Linked DNA regions of Homo sapiens: all the other regions are linked to region 3. Evidence: fine-mapped QTL for protein levels in blood plasma. A gene starts in region 3. Each other region holds a variant in brackets. All regions are shown on one strand. Distances are from middle to middle.

Region 1 (5,000 bases), 12 kb before region 3:
GATGATTAATGATGTTGAGCATTTTTTCATGTTTGTTGGCTGCCTGTATGTCTTCTTTAGAAAAATGTCTCTTCGGGTCCTTTGCTCATTTTTTACGTAGTTTTTTTTTTTTTTAAACAGCTTTATCGAGATATAAATTCTTACGCTACACAATTCACCCATTTAAAGTATACAATTAAGGCTGGGTGCAGTGGCTCACACCTGTAATTCCAGCACTTTGGGAGACCGAGGTGGGTGGGCCACTTGAGGTCAGGAGTTTGAGACCAGCCTGGCCAACACGGTGAAATACCCTGTCTCTACTAAAAATATAAAAATTAGCCGGACGTGTTCACTTGAACCCAGGAGGCGGAGGTTGCAGTGAGCCGAGATCGCGCCTCTGCACTCCAGCTTGGGTGATAAAGTGAGACTCTGTCTTGAAAAAAGAAAAGAAAAGAAAAAACAATATATATATATAATTTTTTTATAAAAAAGTAAAATAAAAAATACAGTACAATTCAGTGGCTTTAAGTATATTTGGAGTTTTACATCTGTTACTATAATCAGTTTTAAGGTATTATTTTTTGAGACAGGATCTCACTCTGTCCATGCTGGCGTGCAATGGCGCGATTTCTGCTCACTGCAAACCGTCTCTGGGGCCGAAGTGATCCTCCCACCTCAGCCCCCCAAGTAGCTGAGACTACAGGTGCGAGCCACCAAACCCAGCTAATTTTGTATTTTTTGTAGAGATGGGGATTCATCATGTTGCTTAGGCTCCTGAGCTCAAGCGATCCACCTGCCTCGGCCTCCCAAAGTGTTCGGATTACGGGCATGAGCCACTGCGCCCAGCCTGGGCATTTTTATAATTCCCTAAGTAACCCCCTTATCCATTAAGCAGTCACTTCCCATTCCCCCAGCCACGATGCAACTTTCTGTCTCTGTTGATGTGCCTGTTCTGGACATTTCATGTAATAGACTATGTAGCCTTTGTGTCTGGCTTCTTTCACTTGGCATCTTGTTTTCCAGGTTCATCCATCTGTAACACGTGTCGGCGCTTCACTCTTCTTTAAGGCTCAATAATATTCCACTACATGGACGGACCACATTTTGTTTATCCATTCAGCCGCTGATAGGCATTGAGGTTGTTTCAACTTTTTGGCTCTGATAAATAAAGCTGCTGGGATCATGCAAGTTCAAGTTTTTATGTGGACGCATGTTTGCAGTTCTCAGCCAGCCTAAGTGGTTTCTCACCTTTTTTTTTTTTTTTTGGAGACGGAGTCTTGCTCTGTCACCCAGGTTGGAGTGCAGTGGCACGGTCTCAACTCACTGCAACCTCTGCCTCCTGGGTTCAAGCGATTCTCCTGCCTCAGCCTCCTGAGTAGCTGGGATTACAGGTGCGAGCCACTACGGTCCGGCTGATTTTTGAATTTTTAGTAGAGACCAGAGTTCACCATGTTGGTCAGGCTGGTTTCAAACTCCTGACCTCAGGTGATCCACCCGCCTTGGCCTCCCAAAGTGCTGGGATTACAGGCGTGAGCCACGGCGTGTGGCCCATGTTTTCTCACTTTTAATATAAACAAGAACAAGAACAAATCTTCCTCTGCTGTGCACGGCAGTACAGCATGGCGACTGAGTGGCCCATAGTTCATGGGTTTGAATCCTGGCTCTGCGACCTTGTGCAGGCCACTTAACCTCTCTGTGCCTCAGTTTCCCCAGCTGTGATGTGAGGTTAATAATAGTGCCTGCGTCCCAAGGGCTGTTTAAAGATTAAAGAATAGCTGTGGAACACTCAGCATAGGGCCCCAGGAAATGAGAGGTCAGTGCTTGCTAAGTAAACATAGGAAGCTCAGTTTAATTACAGGTGGCCTTGGCACTCAGCCCCCAGGCCAGGAAAGGCCAGGGCACAAGCCTCATTTCGAGGGCCAACACCACTGCCCAGCTCTGTCTGATGGAGATGGGCCATGGAGGCGGTGCACAGGCCCTGGCGTCATACACACAGGAACCCCAGGGAACACCATCCTAATGAGTAACTCTTATGAGGGGTCCCCGGTGGAAGGCAGTCCCCTTGGGTGGGGACAGGCCGAGGATCTTTGGGTAAGAAATCATCAGTAAATTATAGCAATACAAGAACAGAAATTAAAAATAAAATAAGGCCAGGTGTGGTGGCTCACACCTGTAATCCCAGCACTTTGGGAGGCCGAGGCAGGAGGCTCACTTGGGGCCAGGAGTTTGAGACCAGACTGGCCAACATGGCAAAACCCCATCTCTACTAAAAATAGAAAAATTATCTGGGTGTGGTGGCAGGCACCTGTAATCCCAGCTACTCAGGAGGCTAAGGTGGGAGAATTGCTTGAACCCGGGAGGTGGAGGTTGCAGTAAGCTGAGATCATACCACTGCACTCCAGCCTGGGTGACAGAGAGAGACTCGGTCTCGGGAGGGGAAACAAAAAGAAAAGAAAGAAAGAAAAAAGGCTGGGTGCTGCGGCTCATGCCTGTAATCCCAGCACTTTGGGAGGCCGAGGCGGATGGATCACCCTGAGGTCAGGAGTTCGAGACCAGCCTGGCCAATATGGTGAAACCCCGTCTCTACCAAAAATACAAAAATTAGCTGGGCGTGGTGGCGGGCCCCTGTATTCCCAGCTACTTGGGAGGCTGAGGAAGGGGAATCACTTGAACCCAGAGACCTCGCCACTGCACTCCAACATGGGCGATAGAATGAGGCCCTGCCTACCTTAAAAGAAAAAATGTAAATAAATATAAAAAAAAAAGCCATCAGCGAAGACTGAAGTGTGACATAAATACATCATCTCCACACAAGTCCCACAAACTCAGGTGTGTCACTTGGGGGAAACAAGTCAAACAAACTCAGGTGTGTCACTTGGGGGAAAAATGAGGCTTTTCCAGTCCAGAGGGGCCACCCCCACCCAACTTGAGAAAAGAAAAATAGCTCAGATCAGTCTGAGCTATGCGAAATGTATCAGGCCCAGGGAGACTGTACAGTGAATAGGGGACTTCGGTCACACGCCTCCTCCACCCATGCCCGAGGCAGTGGTTCCTGCACAGCTGCCCTCCCCATTAGCTTCTTGTTCCTGGAATTTGTGATACAATAAACAGTGCATAGCCAAT[C/T]AATACCTTCTGTTATCTTTTTTTCTGAGCCAGACCTGCAGATACCTTATGCTGTTTCAATGTAAATTCTTGGTAACAATTTAGGAACTCTCTCTTCTTTGTTCCTTAAAAATCCACTTGCAGACTGGGTGCGTTGGCTCATGCCTGTAATCCCAGCACTATGGGAGGCCGAAGTGGGTGGAGGATCACTTGAGGCCAGGAGTTTGAGACCAGCCTGGACAATATAGTGAGACTTCATCTCTTAAAAAAAAAAAAACAAAAACAAAAACCCGGCACGATGGCTCACGCCTGTAATCCCAGCACTTTGGGAGGCCAAAGCAGGTGGATCACCTGAGGTCAGGAGTTCGAGACCAGCCTGGCCAGCATGGCGAAATCCCATCTCTACTAAAAAAATAAACATTACCCGGGCATGGTGGCAGGTGCCTGTAATCCTAGCTGCTAGGGGGGCTGAGGCAGGAGGATTGCTTGAACCCGGGAGGTGGAGGTTGCAGTGAGCAGAGATTGTGCCACTACACTCCAGCCTGGGCAATAGAGCAAGACTCCGTCTCAAAAAAAAAAAATAGCTGGGCAAGATGGCTAGGGCCTGTAGTCCCAGCTACTAGGGAGGCTGTGGCAGGAGAATCACTCAAGGCCAGGAGCCCGAGAAACTGACGCTGCAGTGAGCCATGATCACACACTGCACTCCAGACTGAGTGACAGGGTGAGACCCTGTCTCAAAAAAAAAAAAAAAAAGTCCACTTGTAATCACAGCTAGTCAAAGGGTTTATTTGGGGCAACTTGAATCCACACTCCGGGGTGGCCATCCTCAAGCTTTAGGCTTGAATAAACTCTATACTTAATCCTATTTTCTGAATCTTGTTATTTAACGCTGACACCCTTTCCAGCTGGCAGCCTTGTCTCCAAGCCCAACTTCCTCCATCTGTAAAATGGGGATGTTTCAGCCACCCTCCAGGGTCCCTTGTGCCAGTTCCAGGGAAGGACTTGCTCATGGGGGATGTTCACGGGGCGTGGCCCAGGTGAGCAGAGCAGCAGGGGTCAGCCGCCTGCTGCAGGCCAGATCTGACTGTGGTGCATGTTTGCTTTGGCCCACAGAGTGTTATTTCAGTTGGGAAGTAGCAGCCCACACAGAAGGCCTGGAGATTGCTGTCTAAAGCTCCAGACAGAAGTCCGGATATGTGGCTCCTGGGGGCAACAGCTGGGTGGGGCTGAGGAAGGACATCACCCCCCTCCCACAAGGCACACTCCCTTCCGGCTCCTCCAGATTCCCCAGGTGCTGGGACTTATCACCCGCCTGGCCCCCAAAGGCACTAAGGTTGGGATCAGGGTGGTTAAGCGCTCTGGCCCCTTCCTAGCTAGGCAAGGGGGGAAGGCCACTCAATGAGGGTCAAGGAAAGCCATTTGGGCCTGTGTGAACTGCAGAGACAGCAAAGTAGGCTGGGGCCGAGGAAGTTAGTTTCCTCTTTGTGGCAAGTGGGAGCCGTTGCGGGTTCTTCAAATAGAGAATGACTTAACTTCATCCAAGGAGGCCTGAGGGGAAGGTGGTGGGCTGAGCAGAGATAGATGACCAGACAGCAAAATGACACAAAAAGTTGGCAATGAAAAGAACAAGAGGTTAAGACTGAGACTGAGTGTTGGGGAGGAGGCTAATAGGTCTTAGGATTTTATTTTTTTGAAACACATTCTCGCTGTATCACCCAGGCCAGAGTGTAGTGGCGCCATCTTGGCTCCCTGCAACCTCTGCCTCTGGGTTCAAGCAATTCTGCCTCAACCTCCCGAGTAGCTGGGATTACAGGCATATGTCACCACACTCAGCTAATTTTTGTATTTTGAGTAGAGACAGGGTTTCACCATCTTGGCCAGGCTGGCCTCGAACTCCCGACCTCAGGTGATCTGCCTAC
Region 2 (5,127 bases), 140 kb after region 3:
ATCCTCCCATCTCAGCCTCCTGAGTGGCTGGGACTACAGGCATGTGCCACCATGCCTGGCTAATTTTTATGTTTTTTGGTAGAGATGAGGTCTTGCCATGTTGCCCAGGCTGGTCTCAAACTTCTGGGTTCAGGTGATCCTCCCGCCTAGGCCCCCCAGAGTGCTGGGATTACAGGCGTGAGCCACTGCACCTGGCGAGGGCAAGTGCACTTTAAGAGGGGTCCCTGGTCCCCAATCCCAGCTTGCCTGCTGACTCGCTGTGTGCCCTTAGGCCCCCTCTCCTGGCCTCAGTTTCCCCATCCATGAGGTTTGGACACTGGGTATCTCCAGTGGGGCCAGGAGGACTCACAGTACACGGTCAGGTTGATGGGCTCGCTGCGGCTGACACTGACCGGGTTCCACACCTCACACTGATAGGCGCCGGCCTCCTCCCGGCGGATGCCATGCCTGGCCAGCACCCGGCCGTCAGGGGACAGGCCCAGGCGGAGAGCGACGGGCAGGGCCCCACCGTTGAAGAACCAGCGGACCTCGGCGGTGGGGCTGGGGCTGCTGCACATAAGGCGCAGGGTGTCTCGACGTTCCACCAGCGCTGTGCTGTTGGCCAAGACTGTGGGCTGGGCCAGGATCTCTGTGGGGGCAAGAGACAGAGGGGGAGGGGGCCGGACACCACCTGCTCTGAGGGCCTTCCCTTCCCCCAACAAGGGGCATGGCCGGATTGTGGCTGGGCCCCCACACCCTCAGCCGGAGGGACAAAGAATGGTTTTAGGAGGCAGGTCTAATCCTGGAGGCCATCTTGAAGGAGGTGAGCATTTTGAGGTTATTTTAGAAACTTATTCCCTGATGGTTTCCCTGATGATTTGTTGGATTTTTTTTTTTTTTAAAAAAAAGAAGGATTGAGAAGGAGATGGGAAGGCCCAGCTGGGGCAGAGGCGGGTGTTGGGGGGTGTCTCACCATGGACCTGCACGTGTCCGTAGCCCACCTCGGTCTGCAACTGCCTGTTGAAGGTCTGCAGGATGTAGGTGCCTGAGTGCCGGGGCAGGATGCCCTGGATGTCCAGGCTGCCATCGGGGCGCACAGCCTCCCGCCCCGTGTGGGCCGGGCCAGGAGTCTCATCGCCTGTGCTCACGATGTAGCTGGCCACCAGGTATGACACGCTGAGTGTGGGCCCCGCATACCAGCTGTAGGCGAGCAGTTCCCCCGAAAGCCCATGGACGACCAGCGTGACGTTGTCCCCTTCGCTCGGCTGGGCAGGCTCCAGGGTGATAGAGATCTCGGCCCCCACATTCAGGAATGTGGCTGAGGAAGAGGAGTCAGAGGGGTTGGATGAGGCAGGTTTGATCAATCGCCCCATTTGACAGAAGAAGAGACTCAGGCTCGGGGCATGTCCCCAGCCCAGTGTCCTCTGTGTAAATGAGGACAGGCAAAACCAGGATTTGAACCTGCAACTCTGACTCTCAACATCTCAGCCACCTAATCTTTCTGGGAGTTTATCTGCATGGCTTCGAGTACACTGTCTTTCTCTGTGTTTCTGTTCTTCCAACTCTCACATGGGGATGACAGGTCTACCTGCCTGGTAAGGTTGTAAGGATTCTGTATACATACCATGCTTACAATGCCTGGTATACAGTAAGTGCCCAATACATGTTAGTCAGATGCAGGAGCTCAGTCCCAGGGAGGGACTCAGTCCGAGGGAGGGAGGCGTGTGTTGTGAGGATTGGGTCTGATGGACTGTGCCAAGGATCTAGCATCACATCTTGCATACAGCAAGTGCAAAGCAAGTGCTCGGCCCACAGGACCTGCGGCTTTAAGCCGGACCCAAAGGGTTTTCCCATCGTGACAGTCACCAAACTAAGTCTCGCGAGATCCGGCTGCGTATCCAGCCCAGCTAATTGTATGGCCCCACGTAGGATGTCAGGGCCTGCCCCCTGGGTCCTGACTCCCAGTCTGGGGCTCTGCCTCTGCCTCTCCAAGCTCGCCTACAGCGGAAAGCAGGGGTAAGATGAACACACTCCACCCCTTTCCTTCTCAACCAAGCAG[A/G]TCAGCCCCAAGCCCGATGAGCTGGTCGGGGCTGCTTGGGTTTGAATGACGTGTGGTTTGAATGCCCGGAACGGGCGGCTGTGACAGTGCTCACGTCAAAAGGACTGACATGGCTGGCCAGCTTTCTGGTACTTTCCAGGCTGTTAGAGTGTGGCTAGGAGTGAGGGTCTCTGGGTCTAGCCCTCAGTCCTGCCACTCTCTGGCCGTGTGACAGCGGCCAATGGTTTCACCTTTCTGAGCCTCGTTTTCTCCCTATGAAGTGCGGTTCATGTGTGGGCCTCCCTCATAGGTGGTTTGGGGTTGTTTTTTTTTTTTGAGATGGAGTCTTGCTTTGTTGCCCAGGCTGGAGTGCAGTGGTGCAGTCTCGGCACACTGTGACCTCCACCTCCTGGATTCAAGTGATTCTCCTGCCTCAGCCTCCCGAGCAGCTGGGACTACAGGCATGTGCCACCACACCTAGCTAATTTTTTGTATTTTAGTAGAGATGGGGTTTTACTATGTTAACCAGGCTGGTCTTGAACTCCTGACCTCAGGTGATCCGCCCGCCTCGGCCTCCCAAAGTGCTGGGATTAGTGGTGTGAGCCACCTTGCCCGGCCCCTCATAGGTGGTTTTAAACCATGAGAAGCTCTCAGAACAGCTCCGGGCACACGGCATATGTGGTGCTGCTTATAATGACCTTTACATGACCCTGTCAGTGAGGCCCCATTCACAGGTGGGTACACAGAGGCTGAGAAGGGAAAGGCAACTGCCCTAAGCTACATCTTCCGGGAGAAACAGCTGCTGGGAAGAGTTTAGCCTCATCAAGGCTTCCATAGCTGATAAAACAGAAACCTGCAGGAATGAAGGAGCAACAGCGGCTCCCTTGTCCTGGCTTGTGCCCTGGGCTTAGAAATCTCCAAAGCCCACCCTGAAAACCTCTCTGGGTGGCTGTCCCCAGCCTGCCCAATGCAGATGCCTCTTGGAGGGGTAAACTGCCGGTGTGAAGCAGGGCTGCCCTCCCTCCCTAGCACGCTGGACTTCTGCTCACACCTTCCCTCTCTCAGACTGGGGGTCCCCTCCCCTCCCTGGGGTCCTCGGGGGGCTGAGGTGCTGGGGGGTGCCATTCTCGCTCACCACTGAGGAGCAGCCAGCTGTACCCAGTCAGCGCCATCTTTCACCCCAAACCGAGTCTTGGAGATGGTGGCGTTGAAGTCCCAGTGCTCGGACTCCCTTCCTGGTTGGGGCTCGGCTCCGTCTGCCGCAGGACCTGGGAGGGTTTGGTGATTTGGAGCCAGGGGAGATCACCTGAATTTGGAGGGATCGAGTCACCAAGGATCTGGGGCCCGGTTTGGGTACCAGGGTGGGTGTGGCGGGCACCGGCCAGAGGCCGTGACCTGGGCAGGCCTCCTGGGGCAGCCGCCTAACCCTCTTTGTGCCGAGGGCCTGGATTTGGTACTGGGAGAGGAACCAGGTCACCGAGGAGAAGAGAGGAAAAGTAGGGGAAGGTTTTCGGGTAGTTCTTACCAACCACCCAGGCCCGTGGCCTCCTCAGAGAGCCTGGGAGTCACCAAGGAAGAAAATCAGTAAAAGGTGACTGCACCTTTCCCAGCCCCACCCAGTGCAGGGGACCTACAGGTGTTGTCTCAGCGGATGGCAAAACAACCCTGTAAAGTGGGCACCTTTAGGACCCCCCTTTGCAGATGGAGATGAGCTAGGTGGGGACTCCCACTTGTCCGGGTTCCTGCAGGGAGAGGGGATTTGAGCCCTGCTCTGTGTGCAAACCCAGACAGAAGGGCAGGAAACTGTATGGCCACATGCTTTCTTTGGGGCTCTCCTTCTTGTTGGCTTCCTGCAAAGTGCTCAGAAGTTCACATTCTCTTTCTCCCACTTCGGAGGCCTTGTTTTCCCCTCTCTGTCAAATGGGCGTATTCGGAGGCTTTGGGGCCAAGGAGAGCTGAGTTTTGACACCAGCTCTGCACTTACCCAAAGTGGGGCTGGGGACAGTCCCTTGTTGAGTCTCCATTTATTATTCTGATAAATAGAGATGATGGCCGGGTGCACTGGCTCATGCCTGTCATCCCAGCACTTCGGGAGGCCAAGGCAGGCGGATCATTTGAGGTCAGGAGTTCGAGATCAGCCTGGCCAACATGGCGAAACCCCATCTCTACTAAAAATAATAATAATAAAAATAGCCAGGCGTGGTGGCAGGTGCCTGTAGTCCCAGCACTTTGGGAGGCTGAGATGGGCAGATCACCTGAGGTGAGGAGTTTGCAACCAGCCTGACCAACATGGCGAAACCCCGTCTCTATTAAAAATATAAGTTAGCTGGGTGTGGTGGCTAACGCCTGTAATCCCAACACTTTGGGAGGCCAAGGCAGGTGGCTCACGAGGTCAGGAGTTCGAGACCAGCCTGGCCAATATGGTGAAACCTCGTATGTACTAAAAATATAAAAAATTAGCTGGGTGTGGTGGTGTGCACCTGTAGTCCCAGCTACTCGAGAGGCTGAGGCAGGAGAATCTCTTGAACCCAGGAGGTGGAGGTTGCAGCGAGCTGAGATCACACCACTGCACTCCAGCCTGGGTGACAGAGTGAGACTCTATCTCAAAAAACAAAAGCAAAAACAAAAAATAAAAGTTAGCCGGTCATGGTGGCACATGCCTGTAATCCCAGCTACTAGGGAGGCTGAGGTAGGAGAATCGCTTGAATCCAGGAGGTAGAGGTTGCAGTGAGCCGAGATCCTGCCACTGCACTCCAGCCTGGGTGACAGAGCAAGACTCCATTTCAAAAACAAACAAAAAAATAGAGATGATATGGACCCTACTTCAGGTTTGTTGACAGCAGTTAGTGAGAGGCTACAAGTCAGGGATTTAAGCCAGAGCCTGGTGGACGTGGGTCTGATTGGTATGCCTGTTATTAAAAGTATAGGCTCTGGCCGGGCGTGGTGGCTCATGGCCGGACGCAGTGGCTCATGCCTGTAGTCCTAGCACTTTGGGAGGCCGAGGTGGGTGGATCAACTGAGGTCAGGAGTTCAAGACCAGCCTGGCCAGCATGGTGAAACCCTGTCTCTACTAAAAATACAAAAATTAGCTGGGTGTGGTCGCGGGCACC
Region 3 (5,126 bases):
CCTTCATCTGGTATCTATGTCTAGCTCCCTTCCCCCACCCTCCTCCGTCCCATTCCAGTGTCTTTCAGCCTCATCCCTGTGTCGGTATTTCACTCCCCCGACCCTGTGCCGGCATTTCACTCCCCTTCTATCCTCTGATTCCATTCCTACACGTGTCTCTGACCCCATTCCTAAATCTGTGTCTGACCGCTTCCCTCTATTGGCCTCTGTACCCATCCTTGTAGCTCCAGCCTCTCTATATACCCACCCCCCAACTTCTCCTCTGCCCAGTCCCCCTTCCCTAATGAGAGGAGACAGCCAGGCTGCCGTCCCTCTGCTCCCCTCCCCCTCCACTACGTGGGGCTGCCTGGCGGACATGGACACACGGATGGGCAGGGAAGAAAGCTGGGGGAGGGGAGCCGGCCCAGCTGGGGGCCCAGGTGGTGCACCCGCATTCCCCGAGGAGGCCAAGCGGGGGAGGCAGTGGAGCTAGACAGGTATACAGAGAAAGACGGAGAGGAGAGAGAGAGATGGGGAGAGGAGAAGAGAGAAAGAGCTTGGAGAGGGATGGAGAGAGAAAGGGTGAGAAACGAAGAGAGATGAAGAGGGGGAAAGAAAGTGAGGGAAGGAGGAAAACAGGGAGGGGGAGGGGAGAGAGAGAGAGAGGGAGAGCGAGCACATGCCAGCCGGCCAGCCAGTGGACAGCAGAGGCGAAGGATTGGGGTGGGGGTGGTCAAGAAAGGGGCCGACAGCTCCTTCTCCAGGGGCTAAGAGGTTTCACAGGGAATCAGTGGGGCCTGGGAGCCTTCCGGATGGTCCGCAGGGAAAGGATTGTTATCTCAGTTTTTTTACGAGGGAGGAAATGGAAACTCAGAGGCACTTCCTGGAGCCCACCCGGTGCGGGGCTCTGAAGAACCGGAGCCCGGCTTCCCCGGGACCTGCTGTGAGACCTTGAGAAGGCTGCTTGCCTTTGCTGAGCCTGTTTCCTCATCTCTAAGATGGAAACAGAAACAGGACCTGTTTCCCAGGGCAAGCTGGAGCCTTCGGTGAGATCATGCACCAAGCTAACAGTAGGCTCAGGGTCTGGTGGGTTCGGAGAATTCACCCAGAGGTGCCAGTTCTGATCTCATCTGCCTATTTCTGCCTGAAGGGAGAGGCAGGGGATGGAAGCGGAGTTCCCAGCTCTGGGTCAAAGCTGGGAGGCCAGTGAGAGCCATCCTGGGGGAAATGAGGCCAGAGAGGTGGCCGGGGTTCCCCCAAGATCCCCCTGAGCTCTCTTCTGCGCAAACCCTCGGGAAACTCTAGCATCCCAGAGTTTGTCGCTGGGAATACACAACCGGGTCACCTGCAAGGGGCGGGGCCAGCGCCTCTTTCAAGGGTTCCCTCCCAGCCCCTCCCTCCCCAGGGGGGCCGCTCTCCTCCCCTAGTGGGGTGGATGGAAGGACGCCAGGGGGTCCAAGGCATAGCAATGGGAGGGACGGGGGATAAGGGCGGCGGCTCCACTCGTCCACCTCCTGCTATGGCTCTGAGGACAAAGGCGCTACCAGAGGATAGATAAGGTCCCGAAACCGGGGAGTCCGGAACCCGGAGCCAGGAGCGCCCGCCCCGCCCCTCCCTGGCTCGGCGAGAGTGAAACCAGGAAAACTTCCCCGGCGACGTCTCCGTCGCCCCCGACCATTCATAGGGAAAGGGAGGAGTCTCCCAGCCTCTGGGACTCGGGGCCTCCCGTTCTATCTGGGACTCAGGCGACTGAGACTCCAGCCTCAAGACAGAGCCTTCGACCCTTGATCATATCTGGAGCCCAAGAGACGGGGCCCGCTGCTCGCACTTCTGTTTGGATCTCAGAAGACGTTCCTCTGCCTACAATTAAGTCTGAAGCCCACGAGATCGAGTCTCCTGTCCCCCGGTTCTGCCGGGAACCCTGAAAACGAAGCCCCCTGCCCACAATTAAATCCAGAAGCTACAAGTTTGATCCTCTCTCGCCCCCAGTTTTACCTAGATCCCAGTTAGACTTAGCGCCTAGCCTCCATTCTACCAGGGACCCTGAAGACGGAGCCCCCGGCCCCTAATTTTTCTGGAGTCCACGGAGTCAGAACCCCCAACTCCCTGAGGTTCGGGGTTGGAGCTCCGAGCTCAGGCCCTTCCCCCTAAGTCGCCAGAACTCTTATCCTTAGCCCTCCAAGGGACCCGAATCAGGTCCGCTTGTCCTCAGTTCTCTCCGGGCCTCAGACGCCCAAGCCGGGAAGAAGGAAAAATAGGGGAGGGAGGTGGTCTCGCCTCTTCCTCGAGACCTTACTGCGGTAGGTGGGGGGAACATTCCCCACATTCCTGAGAGGGGTAGAGGAGACAGAGACCCAGATCCGGGTGAACTACTCGGCGCGGGGTGGGGAGGGGGCACCAGGCCTTCCTGGGATTTAACCCTTTCGGCGCGGGAATCCGAGAAATGGGGAGGGGGACAGACAAGCAGGCGTAGGATGGGCAATTGGATTAAGAAGGATGGGGGTGGTGGTGAGAGAGATGCAGAAAGGAGGGGTCAGAGTCTCCTCGAGAGAATCGGACGTGTAGGGGGTCGGAGTCTGTGGGGCCAGCCAGGAAGGGGGCACGCGAGAGGGGGCTCGGGGAGCCGGGGGTGGGCGGGGAAGGTGCTCGGCTTCCCCAGCTCGGAAGGTAAGGTTGGAGGGGGTCCGCGCGAGGGCAGGGGGCCGTCCGCTCGTCTCACCGGTTTCCAGGAGCAGCAGCAGCAGCAGCGGCCACAGCAGCGGCGTCGGCGGCGATCTCGACGGCAGGAGGGCAGCGGCCCGGGCCATGGAGGGCCCGGGAGGGGACTGGGCCCGGCCGGAGGCCCGCGGGCCACTCTGTGGGGGCCGATCGGCTGGGCGGTTTAGTAGGTGCCTGTGGGGCTCCGGCTCCGGCTCCGGGCCGGTTCCCGCTGCGCTCTAGCCTCCCTGTTCTGCTCTCCCGGCCCAGCTCTCCCCGCCCGGCTCGGCACCCCCGGCCTCTCGCTCAGCTCCGGCGGTTCGAACCCGCTGACGTCACAGGATCCACCCGCTGCTCCCCCGAGTCAAGCCGACCCTGGCTCCGGCCCCGCCCCCTCCTGGCGTTCTGACCCCGCCCCCCGGATTCCACCCCTGTTCCTCCCCGGGATTCCATTCTCGCTCCTCCCCAGGATTCTAAGGTCGCCCCTGCCAAAGAATTCTGTCTCCTTCGCTCCCGGCGTTAAACCACGCCCCCTAAGGTCTAGCCACGCCCCCTCTGCTCCCGAGTAGTTCCCACGCCCCGCCCCCTGCCTACCGGCCGCCTCGCCAAGGTCTTGCCACGCCCCTTTCGGCCCTTCCGGCCGACTCCGCCCCCACCAGCCCCGCCTCCACCAGCCCCGCCCCTCGCCCTAGCCGGAGTTCTCTCGGTCTCTTAGCTCAGTCCGTCCTGGCCTCTGTCCCACCCACAGTTCGAATCCTGCCCTTTCCTGCCTGCCCGGGTCCTCTCATCACAGTTGCCTGAGGCACGTGGGGCTTTACGGTTCTGCCCCCAGCACGTCCCGGTTGTGCGACCTCCCCGCAGGTCGAGCCCATCGCCCTGAGCCTGTTTCTCGTACCCTCGTGCGTTTCTAATCTCTGCCCCGAACTCTAGGTGTCGCTGCACTCGTTTCTTTCTGGATTTCTCTGTCTCTCTTACGTGTCTTTGTGTCTCTCTCACTCTCTTTGGGTCTTCCTCTCTGTCCCTGTATTTCTGCCTCTCTGGGTCTTTCCGTCCTCATGCTTCGGTGTCGCTCTGTTTCTGGTCTTCCTTTGTCAGTCACTGTTTCTTTATTTCAATAAAAGAGACGGGGCGGGGGGGCGGCGGGGTCTCACTATGTTGCTGAGGCTGGCCTCAAGCGATCCTCCCGGCTCGGCCTCCCAAGATGCTGGGATTACAGGCGTGAGCCACCAAGCCCGGCCTGTCTGTCACTGTTTCTGGGTCACTTGGTCCCCATGTCTCTTTCCATCCTTTGACTCTGTCTCTGTGTCTCTCTGTCTCTATCTGTGTGCCTCTCTGTCTCTGTCTCTATTTCTGTGTATCTCTGTCTCTATCGGCCTGTCTCTGTGCCTCTCTGTCTCTGTGTGCCTCTCTGTCTCTGTGTTTCTCTGTCTCTATCTCTGTGCCTCTCTATCTCTGTGCTTCTCTGTCTCTGTCTCTCCGTGTGTCTCTCTCTGTCTCTATCTGTGTCTCTCTGTCCCTGTCTCTTTCTCTGTGTCTCCCTCTCGGCGTCTCTTGTCTCTGCGTGCGAGTCTCTCTCGCTGTCTCTCTGTCCCTGCTCTGTTCTCTGCTTCCTTCCCTCCCTACCTCCCTGCGCGCCCTGGTCCTCCCCTCCCAACACCTGCTCCGCGCCGCCTTCTCACCGCAGCCACCCGCCAGGGGGCAGCAGAGACCGGCCCCCGCGCTGCGCTGGCCCGGCCGGGCTGGGTGGGGCTGGGCTCCAGTCCGGCCTCCGGACCTGGTCACTCCCCGCGTCCTTGTCCCACTTCCCCTATCTCCCCAGCCTCCTCGCGTCTTTGTGTCTCTCGCTCAGACTCGGGCCCTTTGTCTCTCCCAGCGGCTCGCCCTCCTCCCTACCCCCACCTACCTCTTCGCATTCTTTGGGCTGCCCAGGGGGAGCTGGTGAGGCCGCGCCGGGGGGCGGGATGAGGGCGCGAAGCGGGAGGCCGGGGGAGGGGGTGCCACGGAGCGCCAGTCTGGGCCCAAGTTCGTCCAGGGCCAGGAGGCGCGGAGCTGCTCAGCTGGGGGCAGGTGCTTGGGGGCTTCTTGCCCTAGCAAGAGGACCACCTAGGCTCGCCCTCCCTTCCACCTGCCACACACCTGGGCTTTCCTCCCCAGAAGGACTAGGTTTCAAGTAGCAGAGGCTGTTATCCCTCCGCATTCGAGTCTTAGTTATGATCCTTTTTTTTTTTTTTTCTTTGAGACGGAGTCTCGCTCTGTCGCCCAGGCTGGAGGGCAGTGGCGCGATCTCGGCTCACTGCAACCTCTGCCTCCTGGGTTCAAGCGATTCTCCTGAGTCAGCCTCCTGAGTAGCTGGGATTACAGGCGCGCGCCACCACGCCCGGCTAATTTTTGTATTTTTAGTAGAGACGGGGTTTCACCATGTTGGTCAGGCTGGTCTCAAACTCCTGACC
Region 4 (5,127 bases), 18 kb after region 3:
CCACCTTGCCCGGCCGAAGTTATTTGTTTTTTTTGAGACAAGTTCTTGCTGTCACCTAGGTTGGAGTACAGTGGTGCGATCATATCTCACTGCAGCCTCCCTCTTCCCGCCACAGCCTCCTGAGTAGCTGGCACTACAGGCTCGTGCCACTATACTCAGCTAGTTAAAAAACTTTTTGCTGGGCGCGGTGGCTCACTCCTGTAATCCTAGGACTTTGGGAGGCCAAGGCGGGCGGATCACGAGGTCAGGAGTTTGAGACCAGCCTGATCAACATGGTGAAACCCTGTCTCTACTAAAAAAAATACAAAAATTAGCTGGGTGTGGTGGTGTATGCCTGTAATCCCAGCTACTCTGGAGGCTGAGGCAGGAGAATCGCTTGAACATGGTAGATGGAGGTTGCAGTGAGCCAAGATCACACCACTGCACTCCAGCCTGGGCGACAGGGTGAGACTCCATCTCAAATAAAAAAAAAAAGTATAATATAAACCATATGCCAATCACAAACAGAACCAAAGTTATATGTTAGCATTAACATTTTTTTTTAGAGTGAGGTCTTGCTGTGTTGCCCAGGCTGATCTCAAACTCCTGGCCTCAAGTGATCCTCGTGCCTCAGCCTCCTGAGTAGCTGGGACTAGGCATGAACTACTGTGCCCAACATTTTTTTGTTTGTTTGTTTGTTTTTGAGATGGAGTCTCACTCGGTGTCCCAGGCTGGAGTTCAGCGACACAATCGCAGCTCACTACCACTTCCACCTCCTGGGTTCAAGGGATGGGCTGGGTGCCCAGCTATTTTAGGATAAATTTTCAAAGAATGTGCATGGCTCAAATGAAGAAATCTAAAATATCTTTCTAAGGTATTTAAAAGAAAATATGAATATTAGTAAAAATGGTCTATGCATAGAACCCAGAAACTAGAAAAGAACAAAATCAAGCAAAAGTATTAATACTTAGGATGATGGAAGTAACTTGGGTGGGTTTGGGGCAAGAGCTCCTTAAAATAAGAGAGTCTGAAAGACATTTCTGGCTAGGTGCTATTTTGAGCCAAAATCTGCAGTATGAGAATGAATGAATTACGTGAGGATCTGTAGTGAAAGATTTCAGGACAAATGAAGGGTAAGTTTGAGAGTCCTGGTCAGGTGTGATGGGTCATGCCTGTAATCCCAGAGCTTTGGGAGGCTGAGGCAGGAGGATCTCTTGAAGCCAGGAGTTCAAGACCAGACTAGTCAACACAGAGAAACCCCATCTGTAAAAGTTTTTTTTTTTTTTTTTAATTAGCCAGCTGTGGTGGTGCATGCCTGTAGTTGCAGCTACTGAGGAGGCCGAGGTGGGAGGACCTGCTTGAGCCCCAGGGTTTGAGGCTGCAGTGAGCTATGATCACACCACTGCACTCCAGCCTGGGTGACAGAGCGAGACCCTGTCTCAAAAAAAGAAAAAAAGAGGTAGGAAAGAAACAAAATATTCAAGGGCTGGAGAGACAGACTGTCTGATAGGATGCAGGCAAGGAAAGTGAAGCTAGGGATGGCAGAGAGAGAGGCACTATGCACGCAGCCTTTTGTAGGAGTTTGAATTTTATTCTAAGAGAAATGAGAAAACCTGAGTCACAGACGGGTTTCTAATCTGCTATTTATTTATTTATTTATTTATTTATTTATTTTTGAGACGGAGTTTCACTCTTGTTGCCCAAGCCAGAGTACAATGGTGCGATCTCTGCTCACCGCAACTTCTGCCCCCTGGGTTCAAGCGATTCTCCTGCCTCAGCCTCCCAAGTAGCTGGGATTATAGGTGCGCACCACCACACCTGGGTAATTTTTTGTATTTTTAGTAGAAACGGGGTTTCACCATGTTAGCCAGGCTGGTCTCAAACTCCTGACCTCAGATCATCCACCTGCCTCGGCCTCCCAAAGTGCTGGGATTACAGGCATGAGCCACCGTGCCAGGCCTGGTTTATGTTTTAAAAAAGCATAAATTTCGAGAATACGCAGTACACGTATGCATTAGGACGCTCCTGGAAAAGTATAAAATTATGTTTAAAAGCAGTTATAGGCAGGGCATGGTGGCTCATGTCCATAATCCCAGCACTTTGGGAGGCTGAGGCGGGCAGATCACCTGAGGTCAGGAGTTTGAGACCAGCCTTGCCAACTTAGTGAAATCCCATCTCTACAAAAAATACAAAAATTAGCTGGGCCTGAGGGCAATGCACCTGTAGTCCCAGCTACTGGGGAATCTGAGGTGGGAGGATCACTTGAGCCCAAGGTCGAGGCTGCAGTAAGTCATGATTGCACCATTGTACTCTAGCCTCGGCGACAGAGCCAGGTCCTGTCTCAAAAACAAACAAACAAACAAACATACATGAGAGCAATGGGTCAGCCTGGGCAACAGAACAAGACTACATCTTAAAAAAAAAAATTGGCCCGGCATGGTGGCTCACGCCTGTAATCCCAGCACTTTGGGAGGCTGAGGTGGGCAGATCATGAGGTCAGGACATCAAGATCATCCTGGCTAACACGGTGAAACTCTGTCTCTACTAAAATTAACTGGGCATGGTGGCATGCGCCAGTAATCTAGCTACTCTGGAGGCTGAGGCAGGAGAATCGCTTGAACCCGGGAGGTGGAGGTTGCAGTGAGCCAAGATTGCGCCACTGCACTCCGGCCTGGGCGACAGAGCAAGACTCCATCTCAAAAAAAAAAAAAAAAAAAAAAAAAAAAAAAAAAAAAATTGGCCGGGCGCAGTGGCTCACACCTGTAATCCCGGCACTTTGGGTGGCCGAGGTGGGCCAATCACCTGAGCTCGGGAGTTTGAGACAATTCCGGCCAACATGGTGGAACCCCGTCTCTACTAAAAATAAAAAAATTAGCTGGGCGTGATGGCATGTGCCTGTAGTCCCAGTAACTCAGGAGGCTGAGGCAGGAGAATCGCTTGAACCCGGGAGGTGGAGGTTGCAGTGAGCCGAGATCTCGCCACTGCACTCCAGCCTGGCGACAGAGCGAGACTCCGTCTCAAAAAATAAATAAATAAATAAAGAGAATTGACAAGTGAAAGTATTGCCTATAAGATAATTTCTTTTTTTTTTTGTGAGATGGAGTCTCGCTCTGTCGCCCAGGCTGGAGTGCAGTGGCATGATCTCAGCTCACTGCAAGCTCCGCCTCCTGGGTTCACGCCATTCTCCTGCCTCAGCCTCCCGAGTA[T/C]CTGGGACTACAGGCGCCCGCCACCACGCCCGGCTAATTTTTTGTATTTTTAGTAGAGACGGAGTTTCACCGTGTTAGCCAGGATGGTCTCAATCTCCTGATCTTGTGATCCGCCCGCCTCAGCCTCCCAAAGTGCTGGGATTACAGGCGTGAGCTACCATGCCCAGCCCCGCCTATAAGATACATTTTAAAGTTATTCTGTATTTTATAGAGCCATATGAGCTTGGTGTTTTATTTTTTTTTTAACTTTTACCATTTTAGATTTAGGAATTCCACTTTAAAAGGATGGGAAGGGTGACTGAAAGGTAACGTTTAAATTTTTAATTGATGTGAGTATTAGAGCCATCAAAGATTGCTGTTGAGCATTTGCTTTTATAAGTGCATTGATCCAGGTGAAAGAAGATGTATGTTTGGACTGATGGCCGTGAAACCATTTGTAGAAAGAGCTAGCTGCAGCTCTATGCCCTGTGGCAGGGTATAGAGTTAAAAGGTTTATTGAATATGGGAAGCCGGGGGATAAGTGGTCAGGAAAGAGAGCTGTATGGGAGGGGACCCATGGGATGTGCCTTTGGGTTATGTGAGTGGGAGGTAAAGGAAATGGAGGAATCCAGGATAAATTCTAAGTTTTGGGCTCACCCAGCTGGAGGGCAGGGATACCATTTATGCGAGAGGAAAGACTGGAGGTCGATTTGGGACATAATAGGTTTGAGGTATCTATGTGGATATCTGTCTGTCTATCTATCATCTATCTGTCTATCTATCTATCTATCATCTATCTATCTATCTATCTATCTATCTATCTATCTATCTATCATCTATCTATCATCATCTGTCTATATCTATGTAAAGACAGGGTCTCACTCTGTCACACAGACTGGAGTGCAGTGGTGCAATCAAGACTCACTGCAGCCTCGAACTCCCAGGCTCAATCAACCCTGCTGCCTCAGCCTCCTGAGTAGCTGGGATCACAGGCATGCGCCACCATGCCCGGCTAATTTTTTGTATTTTTAGTAGAGACAGGGTTTCACTATGTTGGTCAGGCTGGTCTTGAACTCCTGGGCTCAAGCGATCCGTCTGCTTTGGTCTCTCAAAGTGCTGGGATTACAGGCATGCCTGGCTACCCCCTGCCTGGCTATTTTTTTGTATTTTTAGTAGAGACAGGGTTTCGCTATGTTGGCCAGGCTGGTCTTGAACTCCTGGACTCAAGTGATTCACCCACCTCGTCCTCCCAAAGTGGTAGGATTACAGGCGTGAGTCACGGCACCCAGCCTGAGATAAAAGCTTTATAAGATTAGAGGTTAATATTCCTGGTGTGTAGAGAGATCCTGCAAATTAATAAGAAAAGGTAAAAAAAAAAAGAGAAAAGTAGGCAAGAGTATACCACAGTTCATAAACAAGAAAAGCAAATGGCCAATGAACATACAGAGAAACACCATTTTCACACTAGAGGTCACGGAAATTCAAATGAAAACAAATTAATATGCCATTGTGGTGAATTTGTATAATTCTATATTGTCTTAGCATCCATTCTGAATATGTTTAACTTTCTCATGCCAAAATCTGGACTTAGTTATCCTTGACACAGTTTCCAGCTCTATACTTCCTCCCAGTCCTTCCTCCCTCCCTCCCTGCCTCTCTTCCTTCTCTCTATTTCTTTTTTAGAGACAGGGTCTCATTATGTTGTCCAGGCTGGTCTCAAAATCCTGGCCTCAAGCAATCCTCCTGCCTTAGCCTCTCAAAGCACTGGGTTTACAGGTGTAAGCCATCATGCCCGGCTCTCCTTCCAGTTTCTTACTGGAGTTGATCAAGGTATCAGCTTTATCTCACCTCCTCCTGTATGGGACCATCTCTGTATGGGACAGCTAGATAGATACAAACTACTTGACCCAAGCTACTGATCCCCACACCTCCAATGAATGGACTGTGCAGATATGACAACCTC
Region 5 (5,127 bases), 80 kb after region 3:
CAGAGCGAGACTCCGTCTCAAAAAACAAACAAACAATGAAAAAAAGAAAAGATGTGTTCTGTTTACCTCTCACACTCTTTTTTTTTCTTTTTGTTTTTTGAGACAGTCTCCCTCTGTCGCCCAGGCTGGAGTGCAGTGGCTGAATCACAGCTCACTGCAACCTCTGCCTCTGGGTTCAAGCAATCCTTCTACCTCAGCCTCTCAAGTTGGTGGGTGCCACCATACCTGGCTAATTTTTGTAGAGATGGGATTTTGCCATGTTGCCCAGGCTGGTCTTGAACTCCTGGCCAATCCACTCACCTTGGCCTCCCAAAGTGCTGGGATTACAGGTGTAAGCCACCGTCCCCTGACTCTGTGTGTGTGTGTTTGAGGCAAAGTCTCTCGCTGTCACTCAGGCTGGAGTGCAGTGGCATGGTCACAGCTCACTGCAGCCTCAACCTCCTGGGCTTAAGCGATCCTCCCACCTCAGCCTTCTGAGTATCTGGGACTGCAGGCACGTGCCACCATGTTCGGGGTTAGAGCCGGGGTCTACCCATGTTGCCCAGGATGGTCTTGAACTCCAGGGCTCAGTCTGTCCTCCCACCTCAGCCTCCCAAAGGGTTGGGATTACAGGTGTGAGCCACTGTGCCCGGCCAATGCTCTTAAAGTCACTTTTTGGAATGTCCCAGGCATTTAGAATCTGGCAGATTTCACACACGCATCTAGGAGAGATGTCCTCTGTCTTTCTGGGTTTACTCAATGTGGTGAGGACAAGCGAGTGGAGCCCCGAGAAATGCATTGAAGGTATGACTTCTGGCGTTAGAGCTGTCCCCGGAATGCTGGGACTGTCACCCATGAGGAGCTTTGGAAGTTGAGGGGTGAGTGATTGAATTATTATTATTATTTTTCTGTCACCCAGGCTGGAGTGCAGTGGCACGATCTTGGCTCACTGCAACCTCCCCCTCCCAGGTTCAAGCAATCCTCCCACTTCAGTCTCCCTAGTAGCTGGGACTACAGATGTGTGCCACCATATCCAGCACATTTTTGTATTTTTAGAACAGACGGGGTTTCACCATGTTGGCCAGGCTATGAGTGCTTAATTCTGTGAAGGCTGGGAGGCTGGAGACCCCAAGCAGGACCCTTCCTCCATCTTTGGAGTCTGCCTTTCTCCAGCGGAAGGGGGAAGACTGTGGAAGGACATGTGCCTAGTCCCAAGGTCTAGGAGGCTGAGTGGGGATTTCCATGTGTACAGAGGCCAGATCCCTTGTTTTAGAGAAGTTACTTATAAAGTTCAGTGCTGGGTTCAGCTCTCAAGCCCCGGGACGGTTTCTCATACACGAAAAGCCACATCACCCACAGCCTAGACCCACAAGCACAAGAGGACTTCCAACACACTCCAGACTGATGATGGGCCAGGTCCTGGGCTAAGTGCCTGACACTCACACTCTCATTAAATGCCCAACAACCCATCAACCCCAAGGGGTCGGGGGGATTCCCTTCTTACAGGTGAGGAAACTGAGGCTCAGTGTGGTGAAGTCACTTCACCTTGAGTCATTTAGTCATTTGGTGGCAGAGCCCTGGTTGTGACAGATACATGTGCGGCCCCTCAATAACCATTCTCTCCTCTTCCTTTTGTAGCAGAACCCCTGAATTTTGGCTGGGTACATGCTGCCCAGATAAAACCACATTTCCCAGCCTCTGTTGTGATAGGTGTGGTCATGTGACTAAATTCTGGCCAAATAGGATGTGATGTGTATGATGTGTATGACTTCTGGGTTGTAGCTTTAAAGGTAGGGGCATGCGATTGACTTTTGTTTCTTCTTCCCAGTGGTTGGAATGTGGATGTGATGGTGGGAGCTGGAGCAGCCATTTTGGACCACACAATGGAAGTGTGAGGTGAGGGCAGCAGAACAACCAGGTAGAAGGAGCCTCGATCTCTGACATCCTTGGCTACTATTCTAGATGCGGGTGTTCGCTGGGCCTTTACATGAGAGAAAAATAGACTTTCATCTTATTTAAGCTACTATTGGGTGGACGTGGTAGCTCATGCCTGTAATCCCAGCACTTTGGGAGGCCAAGGTGGGTGATCACCTGAGGTCGGGAGTTCAAGACCAGCCTGACCAACATGGCGAAACTCCATCACTACTAAAAATACAAAAATTAGCCGGGCGTGGTGGCAGGCTCCTGTAATCCCAGCTACTCGGGAGGCTGAGGCAGGAGAATCGCTTGAACCTGGGAGGCAGAGGTTGCAGTGAACTGAGATTTTGCCACTGCACTCCAACCTGGGTGACAGAGCAAGACTCTGTCTCAAAAAAAAAAAAGCTACTATATTTCTTCTTTTATTTATTATATTTTTAA[A/G]GACAGGGTCTCACTCTGTCACCCAGGCTGGAGCATAGTGGTGCAGTCATAGGTCACTGTAGCCCTGACCTCTCGGTGTCAAGTGGTCCTCCTACCTCAGCCTCCTGAGTAGCTGGGACTACAGATGCACGCTACCATGCCTGGTTAATTTTTGCGTTTTTTTTTGTAGAGATAGGGTTTCGCCATGTTACCCAGGCTTTTGCCATGTTACTCAGGCTCTTTGTTTTATATATTTTTTAAAGATAGGGTCTCTCTCTGTTGTCTAGGCTGGAGTGCAGTGGTGCAATCATAGCTCATTGCAGCTTCAAACTCCTCTCGGCCTTTTTTTTTTTTTTTTTTGAGATGGAGTCTCCTCTGTCACCCAGGCTGGAGTGCAGTGGTGCGATCTCAGCTCACCGCAAGCTCCGCCTCCCAGGTTCACCCCATTCTCCCGCCTCAGCCTCCCGAGTAGCTGGGACTACAGGTGCCTGCCACCACGCCTCGCTAATTTTGTTTTTGTATTTTTAGTAGAGACGGGGTTTCACCATGTTAGCCAGGATGATCTGGATCTCCTGACCTTGTGATCCGCCTGTCTCGGCCTCCCAAACTTCTGGGATTACAGGCGTGAGCCACTGCACCCTGCCTCAGCCTTTGAATAGCTAGGACCACAGGCACCTAATATAATTTTTTTTTTTTTATTGTAGAGAGAGGATCTTGCTATGTGGCCCAGGCTGATCTCAAACTCCTGGGCTCAAGCAATTCTCCTGCCTTGGCCTCCAAAAGTGCTGGAATTACAGATGCGAGTCACTTCACTCTTTCAAGAGATGGGGTCTCACTACATTGCCCAGGCTGGTCTCAAACTCCTGGGCTCAAGTGATCCTCATGCCTCAGCCTCCCTCCCGAGTAGCTATGACTACAGGTGTGTGCCACCATGCCCAGCTATATTATTTAATTTAATTACAACCGTGGAATAAAAAAAATGTAGCTAAAACACACATCTAGGCTATGACCTCATTGTTCCATTTTTCTACCAGGACAAAGAATAGGTCTCATCGTCTCTACTGTGTTTCCTCTGACCTCAAAACTGTCAAAAATTCTTAGATGATGGCAACAGCAATTCCCATTTATGAAGCTCTTACTCAGCACCATGGCCTGTAATAAGTATTGCACAAAATTTACTTCCCCCCACCTTTTTCCTTTTTTGAGACAAGGTCTCTCTCTGTCACCCAGGCTGGAATGCAGTGGCGCAATCTTGATTCACTGCGGCCTTGACCTCTTAGGCTCAAGTGATCCTGCCACCTCGGCCTCCCCAGTGGGTGGGACTACAGGCGTGCACCACCATACCGGCTAATTTTTGTTTTTTTTTTGGAGAGACAGGGTTTCACCATATTGCCCAGGCTTGTCTTGAACTCCTGGGCTCAATCGATCTGCCCACCTCCAGCTCCCAAAGTGCTAGGATTACAGGCGTGAGCCACTGTGTCCCGTTCATATTTTTTTTTTTTCGGTTTGGACAGGAAGGAGGATTTATTGGTGGGTGTGAGTAAGCAGGGCTCGCCACTATTCCAGGGGCCTATGATTGGGGATGTATCTGATGCCACAGCCATCCAGGATGAGCTACTTCTCAGCCACCGTGTCTTCACATTCATCTGCACTAAACTTGGTAAAGTCCCACCGCCTTGAGATGTGGGTCTTCTGGTGGCCAGGGAGCTTGAACTTGGCCCTGGGTAGGGCCTCAATCACGTGTTCCATGTTCTGCAGCTTGGTGCGGATGGACGTGATGCCTTAGCCAATGTGAACCCTGGCCACCACACCCTGGGGCTTTCCAAAGGCGCCTCGCATACCTGTCTGGAGTCTAGACTGGGGTGAGGTCAAGATCAGAAACATGAACATGCATCGGAAAGGGCTATCTCCAAGGTCTCTTAAGGCCACCGCTACACGCAGCAGGCTGCGTATACTACTGAGGGCACTGCTGTTTGCCGCCACTGCATAGGAGGAGAGGAGCACAATTAGCTTGACTAGTGTTCATGTTTAAACCTTGGAGCAAACCTGCAAGTTGCTCTAAGGATTAAACATAAATATTGGCTGGGTGCGGTGGCTCATGCCTGTAATCCCAGCACTCTGGGAGGCTGAGCCAGGAGGATCTCCTGGGGTCGGGAGTTTGAGACCAGCCTGACCAACATGGTGAAACCCTGTCTCTACTAAAAATACAAAAAATTAACTGGATGTGGTGGCGGGTGCCTGTAGTCCCAGCTACTCGGGAGGCTGAGGCAGGAGAATGGCGTGAACCCGGGAGGTGGAGCTTGTAGTGAGCTGAGATTGCGCCGCTGCACTCCAGCCTGGGCGACAGAGCGAGACTTCATCTCAAATAAATAAATAAATAAATAAAATTAAAAATTAGCTGGGCATGATGATGCATGCCTGTAATTCCAGCTACTTGGGAGGCTGAGGCAGGAGAATTGCTTGAACCTGGGAGACGGAGATTGCAGTGAGCAGAGATTGCACCACTGCACTCCTCCAGCCTGTGCAGCAGAGTGAGACTTAGTAACAACAAAACAAAACAAAACAAAACAAAACAAAACAAAACAAGAGACAGGATCTCCCTCTGGCACCCAGGCTGGAATGCAGTGGCGTGATCATAGTTCACTGCAGCCTTGACATCCCGGGCTAAAGTGATGCTTGAACCTCAGCCTCCTAAGTAGCTGGGACTGCAGGCACACACCACCAGGCTCATGCTCAGCCAACACATTTTTTGATCTTCTGTAGAGACAGCGTCTCACTATGTTGACCAGGAAACATAGAAATAATCTCTCC

Direction of the effects. Positions count from the first base shown, and alleles are read on the strand shown. Strength reflects both the effect of a copy and how common the allele is. Not every link is listed here.
As copies of A replace G in region 2, the plasma level of the protein whose gene starts at base 3,015 in region 3 goes up (strong association).
For the plasma level of the protein whose gene starts at base 3,015 in region 3, allele G in region 5 goes with a lower level than allele A (moderate association).

Evidence for each region. PIP is the chance, under the fine-mapping model, that this variant and not a neighbour inherited with it causes the effect. Protein levels are from antibody-based Olink assays in UK Biobank. Linkage for the fine-mapping came from a reference panel and not from the study's own genotypes, which makes the PIPs less certain.
Region 1: its variant is fine-mapped to the plasma level of the NECTIN2 protein (UK Biobank, PIP above 0.99).
Region 2: its variant is fine-mapped to the plasma level of the NECTIN2 protein (UK Biobank, PIP above 0.99).
Region 4: its variant is fine-mapped to the plasma level of the NECTIN2 protein (UK Biobank, PIP above 0.99).
Region 5: its variant is fine-mapped to the plasma level of the NECTIN2 protein (UK Biobank, PIP above 0.99).

The regions. Positions count from the first base shown.
Region 1 is chr19:44,856,070-44,861,069 of GRCh38, reverse strand. All of the region lies in intron 1 of NECTIN2 (nectin cell adhesion molecule 2), which reads right to left. Among named protein-coding and RNA genes, the nearest start is that of NECTIN2, 12 kb to the right of the region's middle. The variant C/T (reference allele first, on the strand shown) is at 3,103.
Region 2 is chr19:44,699,519-44,704,645 of GRCh38, reverse strand. CEACAM16 (CEA cell adhesion molecule 16, tectorial membrane component) reads right to left here. Exons shown (of 7, transcript NM_001039213.4): 2 at 3,153-3,285; 3 at 953-1,297; 4 at 350-628. The coding sequence starts at 3,189. The region is part of intron 1 of CEACAM16-AS1 (CEACAM16, CEACAM19 and PVR antisense RNA 1); the gene reads left to right. Among named protein-coding and RNA genes, the nearest start is that of CEACAM16, 2.9 kb to the right of the region's middle. The variant A/G (reference allele first, on the strand shown) is at 2,039.
Region 3 is chr19:44,844,186-44,849,311 of GRCh38, reverse strand. It overlaps NECTIN2 (nectin cell adhesion molecule 2), which reads right to left and starts at 3,015. Exons shown (of 9, transcript NM_001042724.2): 1 at 2,699-3,015. The coding sequence starts at 2,786. RefSeq lists an enhancer at 323-1,305 and silencers at 2,945-3,044, 3,175-3,254, 3,335-3,384, 4,252-4,651.
Region 4 is chr19:44,825,905-44,831,031 of GRCh38, reverse strand. No RefSeq gene overlaps it. Among named protein-coding and RNA genes, the nearest start is that of NECTIN2, 18 kb to the left of the region's middle. The variant T/C (reference allele first, on the strand shown) is at 3,186.
Region 5 is chr19:44,764,191-44,769,317 of GRCh38, reverse strand. It overlaps the pseudogene LOC124900431. Among named protein-coding and RNA genes, the nearest start is that of MIR8085, 8.1 kb to the right of the region's middle. The variant A/G (reference allele first, on the strand shown) is at 2,338.